Linked DNA regions of Homo sapiens. The protein of the gene in region 1 purifies or fractionates together with the protein of each later gene. This does not show direct contact. Each region holds a gene or a part of one and is shown on either strand. Other genes may lie near its edges.

Evidence for each region.
Region 2: the proteins of ZNF274 (region 1) and MRPL27 purify together in Homo sapiens (affinity purification with mass spectrometry; 2 studies listed by BioGRID and IntAct, with this or other methods). This does not show direct contact.

What each region holds. Positions count from the first base shown.
Region 1 is NC_000019.10:58,178,213-58,186,267, reverse strand, and holds the start of ZNF274 (neurotrophin receptor-interacting factor homolog), read right to left. Parts: upstream 3,208-8,055; 5' UTR 2,826-3,207; exon of another isoform or gene 2,348-2,825; 5' UTR 2,303-2,347; coding exon 2,270-2,302; intron 572-2,269; exon of another isoform or gene 557-571; coding exon 430-556; intron 1-429. UniProt on the Homo sapiens protein: Probable transcription repressor. Specifically binds to the 3'-end of zinc-finger coding genes and recruiting chromatin-modifying proteins such as SETDB1 and TRIM28/KAP1, leading to transcription repression.
Region 2 is NC_000017.11:50,367,144-50,370,256, forward strand, and holds the end of MRPL27 (large ribosomal subunit protein bL27m), read right to left. Parts: intron 2,957-3,113; coding exon 2,889-2,956; intron 1,156-2,888; coding exon 949-1,155; 3' UTR 724-948; downstream 1-723.

The DNA.
Region 1 (8,055 bases):
GACAGGCTCTTTGATGCTACTCCTAAGCTGTTGGGACACTGGCATCGCATTGTCTGGAATTTCTGTGGAGTTTCTTTTTTTTTTTTTTTTTAATAGAGACACGGTCTATGTTGCCCATGCTGGTCTCAAACTCCTGGGCTCAAGCAATCCTCCTGCTTCAGTCTCCTAAAGTGAGCCACCATGCCTGGCCGGAACTCTTGTTGCAAGAACAATAAGCATCCACTACTGCAGCTGAAAACATCCCTGACAGACCCATCTCCCTGGTATTCAGGGAGGGATGGACTAGGCAATGATTCAGAAGTCATACTGAAAAGCTGCCCTTTTCCTACTGGTGCCCCTGCAGTGTGAGCCCAAGCAGACACATACTTCAGAGGTGCTACATTTGTGCTACAAAGCACAGATCCTTCTTGACCTGGAGGCCAGCCTTACCCACTGAGACCAGGTTCCTGTAGTTCTCCAGCATCACTTCCCTGTACAGGGACTTCTGTTTGAGGTCCAGCAGTCCCCACTCTTCCGGGGTAAAACCCAGTGTTACATCTTCAAAGGTCACTGGTTCCTAAAAATCCAGATTCTTGTTCAGCCACAGGCCATCCGCATCCACGACAAAAGAAAGACAGGGGAGGCTGACCAGGCCAGTGAAAGCACAGAATGGTCTACAAGATGACCCAAGGGCATTTTGGGAGTCTCATCCTGAGTTCCTGTCTTTGTCTGAAACCCCAAGCAAACCCAAGCTTGACTCTATTCAGGTTACAATAAGGAGAGCAACACATGAGATCTCTGTAGCATATGAAAATCTGTCCATTTTATTTATTTATTTATTTATTTAATTTATTTATTTATTGTTTTGAGACAGAGTCTCACTCTGTCTCCTAGTGGAGTGCAGTGGCGCAATCTTGGCTCACTGCAGCCTCCACCTCCCAGGTTCAAGCGATTCTCCTGCCTCAGCCTCCTGAGTAGCTGGGATTACAGGCGCATACCACCATGCCCGGCTAATTTTTGTATTTTTAGTAGAGATGGGGTTTCACCATGTTGGTCAAGCTGGTCTCGAACTCCTGACCTTGTGATCTGCCTGCCTCGGCCTCCCAAAGTGCTGGGATTACACATGTGAGCCACCGCACCCGGCCCTATTTTTCTTTTCTTTTTTTTTTGAGACGGAGTCTCTCTCTGTCGCCCAGGCTGGAGTGCAGTGGCGCCATCTCGGCTCACTGCAAGCTCCGCCTCCCCGGTTCACGCCATTCTCCTGCCTCAGCCTCCCGAGTAGCTGGGACTACAGGCGCCCGCCACCACGCCCGGCTAATTTTTTGTATTTTTTTAAGTAGAGACGGGGTTTCACTATGTTAGCCAGGATGGTCTCAATCTCCTGACCTCGTGATCCACCTGCCTCGGCCTCCCAAAGTGCTGGGATTACAGACGTGAGCCACCGCGCCCGGCCCCCTATTTCTTATTCATTTGAAAATTCTGACTTTGGGAGTGGTGCGTATGCCTCCTAGGGAATTCTCTGAGCTGCACCATCACACCCAAGCCGTCAGCCCCTACCCAGGGCCCTGATGCTTCTTTCTATCTCCTTCACCTGTCAGGGATCCATCCTCACCTGTCTTTTCTACTTGTTATTGAACTCTGCTGCTGTCACCTCTTGCTTGATGCCAATTTATCTGCTGAAATCTAAACATAAGCCTGATCCCTGCATAGACCTTTGGGAGGCCGAGATGGTCGGATCACCTTAGGTCAAGAGTTCCAGACCAGCCTGGCCAACATGGTGAAACCCCGTCTCCACAAAAAACACACACAAAAAATAAAAATAAAAAAAAAATTAGCTGGGTATGGTGGCACACGCCTGTAGTCCCAGCTACTCGGGGAGGCTGAGGCAGGAGAATCACTTGAACCCAGGAGGCGGAGGTTGCAGTGAGCCAAGATCGCGCCACTGCACTCCAGCCTGGGCGACAGAGGGAGACTCCATCTCAAAAAACAAAAAACAAACAAACAAAAGACCTGTCAATTACTCTTCCCAATATAAAGGATACAAGCAAGAGCCTTAACCTGGCCTTCAGAAGCCCCTACAATCTGGTCTCTATTCTAACTACACCCTTGGAAAACCAAGCAACCTGCGGTTCCACCATCACGCAGGATCTCTCATGCCCAACCAATCTCTACCCCCTCCCCGAGGTGCTCTGGAGGATGGGGGTATCTCAGGGAAGGTGGTATCTCACCACCATCCGCATCCTCCCAGGTGCAGTAGCGGACTCAAAAGCTGAAGGAAGCCTCTACTCACACAGGACCAGGCCGTCGGAAGCCTGGAGGCCATAGTTTCCTCCTTCTCAATGTGTCTCTGGTGGAAGTGGGCAGAGTCCTGAGGAAACCGAAGTTGGGAGGGGAGGGAGAGGCTTAAGGTGTCCGCTGGGGAGCTACCGCAGCCTCCGCCCAGGAACGGCTCCCTCAGCGGGAAATGACAAGTCCACCCAAACTGGAAAACGCCCAGAGTGAGTCATAGGACTCCCACAGGACTGGATAGGACCAGTTTTCCCCTCCCCGAGAGGACACCGAGCCTCCTCTGTCCCGCGCATCGGAGGGGATCGCCTCCCTGGCCCAGACCCCACGCTTCCGGAGGCGATCTGTTCTCTCCACCGCGGCGCCCCGAAAGCACTGTCTCCCCTCGGGGTTCCGGGTCACCGACCCCATCCCACAGAGCGGCGGGAGGACTGCAGGCACGGCCGGCTCAGGGTACCCGAGCTCGGCGGAAAATGCAGAGGCCGCGCTCGCCCCCAACTAACGGTTCTGGACCCGCCCAGCGCAGCCCCCGACGGACGCAGGTTTCGCGCGGCACTCACCCGGCGCGCGCCGCACAATGGCGCCCGTCGGCCGGCGGCGAAGTGCGTCAGCCCGCCGTCCCGAACTACAACTCCCAGACGCCCCCGCGGCGCGCCAGCTTGCCTCACCCAGCGGCGGCCATCTTGACTGGCCGGTTAGGGGCGGCAGGCGAAGCCGGGGACAGCAGGAGGAGGATACTCGTCGATGTCCCTCGGCGGTCCAGCTAGGCAAGGGGAGGCCTCTGGTGAGGGACGCTAGGCCGCAGGGCCCCACACTAATGTGGGCGGCGACCCGAGCTGGGAGAGAGTCGTGCCCTGCCACGAAGGCGACCACTCTTGGGGCAGAGCAGAAGCTGGAGAAAGGAAAGGCGCTGGACAGGGGTCAGGCCGGAAGTGCTGGAATGGGTGATGCTTGGTTGGGTGGCGGTGGGGGCGGGATTAATTATGACGTCCCTTGGGAAGAGGAAGGGCGGGTAGGGCCGGAAGTGCAGGGGGCGGGCCTAACTGGCCGTCCATCTGGGTGGAGGGGCGGGGACAGGGAGGGCGGGGAGAATGTAGGAGGCGGGGCTAGAGTCCACGCAACTTTTGGGGAAGGAGGGGGACTGGAAGACGGAAGTCGCGGGGGGAGTGGGGAGAGGTACTGAAGTTCCACCAGTTTCAAAGTCGAGAAAGAAGGGGAGGACTGGGAGAGCCGGAAGTGTGCAGGAGTTGGGACTGACGGCACTTATGTTTCTGGGAGATGGGTCCTGCCTGAAAGTGAGGGTGGACAGGGCCAAGTGTCCACTCAAGGTCAGGGAGGGGAGGGAAACTCGGAGGACCGGAAGTGTGATGGGAACGTGGCCAAACGTCCACCCTAGTTCTGGGGATTAGAGGAAGGGAGTAGGAAGGTCAGGGGTGTGCAAGGGGAAGGAGGGAAGACTAGGTGGACCACAAGTGTGATGGGAATGAGGCCAAACGTCTACCCTAGTTCTGGAGAGATGATCAGGGCTAACTGTACCCCAGGCATTGGGGAGGAGGAGCAGGATCCTCTGCCTAGTGTCCCCCTGTGGTCCAGTTTGCTCCTGGAAGCTGAGGTGCTCATGTCTAGGGAGAGGAAACCTAAGTCTGTAGCTGTCCAGGACCTGGTGTGTGCCACCCATCCTTGGGCCCAGGGTGCTCTCATCTTCCTTGGGAGCTCAGGACAAGGAGGTATTCTCTTGGCTTCCTCAAGGACCGACATCTGGTGTTTTCTTATCTTCCTTAGGTCCCAGGTCCCAGTATGGTCTTGTCTTCTTGGGACCTGAGGGCCCTAATGATCTCTCTCAGTGCTCAGGACCCTGTGTCCTCTTTCTTGATATTTCCTGGCAGGTCTCAGCAGCCCTCTGCCTCCCTCTGGTGGTCGTGTACACTGCCTGCTAAACTTGTTCCACGGGTTGTTGGTTTTTTTGGTCACTGTGGAGGATCCAACCTCAGGCTACACATTGTTTAATTGTTGCTGTTAGTGTGTTGATTTTGGCATAGGAGTATTTACTCAGAGACTGTGCAGATATCTTATAGTCTAATAATATTTCATTGGATTTTTCGTGTCTATTATAGATACAACACCATCCCCAATTAATAAGTAATTTGATATCTTCTTTTTCCATATTTCAACTTTAAAAAATTAACATTGTATAGTCCTAGCTAGTATGACAGAGCTATGTTAAGTAGTCATGTTTACTAATAGTCTTGTTTTGTTCTGGATTTGAATAGGATACGTCTAGCCCTTCATAATCACAAGGAAGCAAACCCCCTTGGAAATTCTTTTTTTTCTTTCTTTTTTTTTTTCTTGAGACAGGGTCTTGCTCTGTCACCCCGACTGGAATGCATTGGTGCGATCACAGCTTACTGCAGCCTCCACCTCCTGGGCCCAAGTGATCCGCCCACCTTAGCCTCTCAAATAGCTGGGACAGGTGCACACCACCACACCTGGCTTTTTTTTTTTTGGAGACAGAGTCTTGCTCTGTCGCCCAGGCTGGAGTGAGGTGGCACAATCTCGGCTCACTGCAACCTCTGCTTCCTGGGTTCAAGCGATTTTCCTGCCTCAGCTGCCCAAGTAGCTTGGACTACAGGTGTGTGCCACCATGCCTGGCTAATTTTTGTATTTGTAGTAGAGACGGGGTTTCTCCATGTTAGCCAGCCTGGTCTCGAACTCCTGACCTCAGGCAGTCTGCCCACCTCAGCCTCCCAAAGTGCTGAGATTATAGGCATGAGCCACCCCGCCTGGCCTCTTTTGTACTTTTTTGTAGAGACAGAAACCTCACTATGTTGCCCAGGCAGGTGGAAATTCTTCTAATGATTTCTTTCTATTTATGTGGTATAGGATAAAACCTGATTTTTGATTAAAAGAATTTGTTTTTGAGACAGGGTCTTGTTCTGTTGCCCAGGCTGGAGAGCAGTGCTGCAGTCATGGCTTACTGCTGGCCCAACCTCCTGGGCTCAAGTGTTCCTCCCATCTCAGCTTTCCAAGTAGCTAGGACTGACTACTGGTGTGCATCACCACACCTGGCTAATTTTTAATAAATATTTGTGTAGAGATGAGGTCTCAGTGTGTTGTCAGGGCTGGTCTTGAACTCCTGGACTCAAGCAATCCTCCCGCCTTGGCCTCCCAAAGTGCTGGGATTGCAGGCGTGAGCCACCATGCCTGACCAAAGATGTTTTGTTTTTTTTTTTTTGTTTTGAGACAGAGTCTCGCTCTTTCGCTCAGGCTGGAGTGCAATGGCGTGATTTCGGCTCAACTGCAACCTCTGCCTCCCGGGTTCAAGTGATTCTCCCTGCCTCAGCCTCCTGAGTAGCCGGGCGTGCCACCATGCCCGGCTAATTTTTGTATTTTTAGTAGAGATGGGGATTTGCCATGTTGGCCAGGCTGGTCTCGAACTCCTGACCTCAGAGGATCCGCCCACCTCGGCCCCGCAAAGTGCTGGGATTACAGGCTTGAGCCACTGTGCCCAACCTAAAGATGGTTTTATATAAGCATATTATTGAAGATTGATTTATGAGAGCCATTTTAATTCAACTTTTAATAACTGCATACTCTTTTCCTGTTTAGCAAATTAAATATGCTGTTTATTGTAATTTGTAAAATAAAAATGACTTCTGAAGAAATGTTAACTATTAAACATGTAAAATGTTGAAAAAATTTATTCATCGTTGTTGGATTTAGACAGTGCCTCGATTGCTTGTTCAAAACCTTCTGAGCCAGATGTATTTTGGAATTCATGATCATTTGGATTTTAGTAGGATGGTAATGTATTTACACCATACAGTGTGTAAATCCCTAAGAGGTGTGGGGTAGCACCTGCCATCAAACACATGAGTATATCTGTAGCAAAATACAAGAAGATTTACACTAGGTGGAAGAGAGACAAAATATAAATAGCCTTGTTCATATAAATTTTGCAGACTCATAACAGGGAGAAATTTTCTGTTAGAAAATATCTGGAATTTTGAATTACATAGAAGGCATTATGGATCATAAGTGAAAATGTGTGTTGTAGAAATAGTAGTTATTTCATTCAATTGCAAAGTTTAATTTTTACTTTTTCTCTCTTAATATAGTCTGCATAGGGCCAGGTGCGGTGGCTCACACCTGTAATCCCAGCACTTTGGGAGGCTGAGGTGGGTGGATCACCTGAGGTCAGGAGTTCGAGACCAACCTGGCCAACATGGTGAAACCCCGTCTCTACTAAAGGGGGCTCCATCTCAAATATATATATATTCCACATAGTCAGGCATAGGTTTATTGAGATACTGAGTTATTTAAATATATTAATATTTTTCCATGTGCTTTTTTTTTTTGAGATGGAGTTTTGCTCTTGTTGCCCAGGCTGGAGTGCAATGGCACTGCAACCTCCGCCTCTGCCTCCCGGGTTCTAGCGGTTCTCCTGCGTCATTCTCCCTAATAGCTGAGATTACAGGCAGATGCCACGACGCCCAGCTAATTTTTATATTTTTAGTAGAGACAGGGTTTCACCATGTTGGTCAGGCTAGTTTCGAACTTCTGACCTCAGGTGATCTGCCCATTTTGGCCTCCCAAAGTGCTGGGATTACAGGAGTGAGCCACTGCCCCTGGCCCCATATGCTTTTTTAAATCAATGGTCTACTGTTGGTTTAAATTAAACAACATATGGCCGGGCGCAGTGGCTCACGCCTGTAATCCCAGCACTTTGGGAGGCCAAGGTGGGCAGATCATGAGGTCAGGAGATCGAGACCATCCTGGCTAACATGGTGAAACCCCGTCTCTACTAAAAATACAAAAATTAGCCGAGCATGGTGGCGGGCGCCTGTAGTCCCCGCTACTCGGGAGGCTGAGACAGGAGAATGGCATGATCCCAGGAGGTGGAGCTTTCAGTGAGCCGAGTTTGTGCCACTGCCTTCCAGCCTGGGTGACACAGCGAGACTCCATCTCAAAATAAATAAATGAATAAATAAATAATAAATAAACAACATATGACTAAGAATAAAATATGTAAAGCTATAAGTTGGCCCAAACCATTATGGCAGCTGGACCATTATGGCAGCTAGTGGTGTTCAACTGAGTCCTAAGCCAGCTGTGCAACTGAATCATGGACCCAGGATTTGATCTCCACTCATCATTCTCTGTCTCTGTTTCATCACACAGAGCATCTCAAATTGTTCCATGTAAAGGGGGATACATTTTAAAATCATTTTTAAAAAGAAGAAAGATGTGTCTTTCCATCTTTGAAATGTGAGCTTTGAGGACACCTCTCTGAACTTCTGAGAGCTTGGGAATGTAAGGTTACAGAAGTATGGATAAATTAATGTGCATTTGAACTATAAATTATTAATATCATAGCTTTTTTCCCAGAAAAGAGGCTCTTTGGTTACTGCTGCTCATTCATTCTTTGCCTGTTTTCCCCAACATCAAAGGTAAACTCACCATCAAGATAATCCACACTGGACATAACACATGGGGGAAAGGCTAAGAATTTGGGCTCTGAGCAGAGGCCGATCACAAACAACCTCCAGAAAACGGCCTGCCTCAAAGAGGAATGCAGGAAGTCCACAGAATGCCGGACAAACCAGTGAGGCAGGTTTGGAATAATCTAGTACATGCCTTTGCACCCTGTATCCGTTAAGGCATGTTTGGTTGGAAATAAATAAAAACCCAAATAACCAACGCCGTTTTCCCACAAAGAAAATCTGCAAGTATAGGTCTTTTCTGGTGCTGGTTAAGCTGCCCACTGAAGTCACGGAGGATGAGGCTCACTCT
Region 2 (3,113 bases), on another chromosome or scaffold:
GCCAGGAATGACCATCCAAAATGAGATTTTCTTCCCGGCCCCTCCACTCAAAGCCAAGCCTCTAAAGGTCCTGGCTGGGATGACAATAGAGTGGCCTGACCCCAGCCCACTCTAAGCCCTCACCGAGTATTCCTGAAGCCAGATTCTTTGCTACTGTTTATCGTTTGAGATAAATCAAGAACGAGAAGAGAATGTGGGCTTGGTGCGCCTAGCTCTTCAGGTGAGCGGGAAGAAGCCATTTGTTTCCTACTCTGCCCTACCACTGCAAAGACCTCGGTAGTCCAGGGCAGTTGGGGCCTGACTGAGCCTCTCAGAAGCATCTCCTGCCATCCCACAAGCTCTCTCTCTGCCCTAGACCTGGACAGGCAGGGAAGAGGGTTTCCTGTGGCCACCTCTGGGGCTGCAGCCCCAGCTCCCTTGGCATGTGGCTACAGGAGAACATGACTGTGTTGCTTCCTTTACTGGCTGCTCCCACCCCTCCTCCCAGGGCCCAGCCCTTGGCCTTTTTTGGGATCTAAGAGGAGAAGCAGCAATGACACCCTCAAGCACAAGCTCCCCTCCTCCCCCTCTGGAGGACAGTGCCAAAGCAAGTCCCTCCTACAAAGTCCCCCCTTCTCATTTCCTCACTCAGATATGTTCTTTCCTGCTTTGAGGCTCCCCGTTGGTGTGCACTAGAGAACCTGGGTAAGGACCAACAGATCACCAGGCAGTTCCATCCAGGTGTGTCCCTAAATAGCATGCGTTCATGACGCTGGCTCACTTTATTTTTGGCCCCAGGTCAGGTCTCCCAAAGGGTTTCCCAGCAGTCACTTCAGAGTCTCCTGCAGAGTCACCATCAAGCAGACCTCTTCCTCGGGAGGCCGTGTCGCCACCCCAACCCTTGACTTCTGGTATCACCATCTCCTGTCACCTGGGCTCCAGTCTCTGTCCGATGGCCTCAACAGGACATCAAAGCATAGCTACCAGTTTGAAGGTGCCCTCAGGCTTGGCAGGAACCACGTGGACAAAAGTCTTGTAGAGCACAGCACCCTTGGGCAGCCTGGTGATCAGATCCACAGCCTCCGTGTTTCTGGGATGAGGCACGTAGACCTCCTTAGTGTAGCGGACTATCCCCTCTTCCAGGGCATACAGACATTTATTCTTCCCAACACCCACCTGCAACACACAGACCTGGTCAGCTGGTCAGCTGGTCAGCGAGGTGGTCCGTCCCAGAATTTTGGGACAGACTTCTCACACAGAGCCGGGCCCTGGGGCTGAAAGGGTGATCAGAGAGCTCCATCTCAGGTTCCCTTTCCCACTGGCTAGCACGTCCAAACCTTCTGCTTCTTTATTGACTCATAACAAATGAGGGAAAAGAAAGCTCCAACAGCCAACATGGGCCACTGCTCAGTCCCAGGGACTGTTACCTGGAGCCATGTCTATGCAGCTGGTCAGAAGCCACACTGCACAAATCCCAAAACCCAGGAAGATGCCCTAAATCTTCACTTAGACTTAAACAACACTAGAACTGTCATATTAAAACACTAGTTTGATGTAAATTTTCATTTAGATAGTGATCTATAAAGTTTAGGCTCTATGGAAAATATAAACCAAAGCTATATGGATAATGCATATGCTAATAAAACAATCATACTACTGCATTAGCTAATACCCATGTAAGCCCTTTAATACACATTAAGTCATTTAATTCTCACCTAGTGAAAGAGGTATTATTTCCAACGCCACTTTTCAGATGTGAAATATGAAGCAGAGAGATTAAACTGTGTTGTATATACAGTTTTTAACCATATTTTTTAGCTTTTTCTTTTAGAACTTCAGGCTGGGTGTGTGGCAAATTTTACCCAGGTAGTCCAGCATTATTCTCTGTCTCTCTGATTAAAAGAATGGGCTCTGGAGCCAGGATGCCTGGTTCAAATACCAGCACTGCTACTTACTCCTGTGTGGTCTTAGGCAAGTTACTTCACTGTGCCTCTATTTTTTCGTCTGTCAAATGGGGATAATATTAACTATTTTACAGGGTCATTTTGAGGATTAATGCTCAACAATCATAAAGGGCCTAGAATACTGTCTAGCTCAAAATGTGTTAGCTTTGATTATTATTGTTGACATAGCCACACATCTAATGTCTTAAGTTCTAAAAGGTAAAAAGCTACTACATACATAATCAATTCACATACAAATTAGCATCTTTGAAATAAATACAGGTTACTATCAACCTTTTTGTACCTACTAAAATTATCGAAAAAGGGGTGGGGGAGGGGAAACTGTTTACAAAGGCAACTAATATTTAAAATAATGTGGAGAGTACAGTATCGTTATGTCTCTGTAACAAAGAACTGTCCTACCCTATAAAAATGATGCCAACTTGCTGAAACTGAAATCCCCACCTGGTATGAACCTAACTCCTGGCACACTGAATTCTATTTCATTAAATTCAAGCTATCTTTCAACCATCTGCAAGTAAGTTTATACAAAGGAAGAAGTCTTAGAATAATGAAAAACTAATAAATTGAAATTAGTTTCCCAAGACTAAAATAATATTTTAAATCACCAGGTATCTTGTCCTCCAAGAACTGAGGGTTAGAAAGGAGAACCAAGAATACCAGGCCAATGCAACACCAGGGCAAATCATAGTGATCTGGGAGTTAGGCAGACCTGGTGCAAATCCCAGCAGTCACTTGCTCCTTCCACCCCGTCTAGGTCTCTGGCATTTCACCTTACTTACAGGGATGTGGTAAGGAAGAAATGAGATCGTGTAGGCATGGGAATCAGCACAATGCTTGCCATTTGGTAAGCACTCAATACATGCAACTGTTATTACCATGCTTAGGGGCAAGGAGAGGTCAACCTAGAAAAGGAAAAAGGGGGGCAGCAACGGAGCAACTCACATGGGCACCTGGGTGCCAGCGGAAATGGCGCTGTGTTGCAATGATGTTCCCAGCATGAACATAGTGACCTAGAAGAGAAGTCCACAGTGACTGGGGCAGCATAGCAAACTACCAAGAAAACATGATGGCCCAAATGCTGCACACCAACCTCCAAGCCTGCCCCTGGCCAAAAACAACTCCCAGACAGTCCAACACAAGCAGCGCAGGATCTGCCACCCAGCAGCT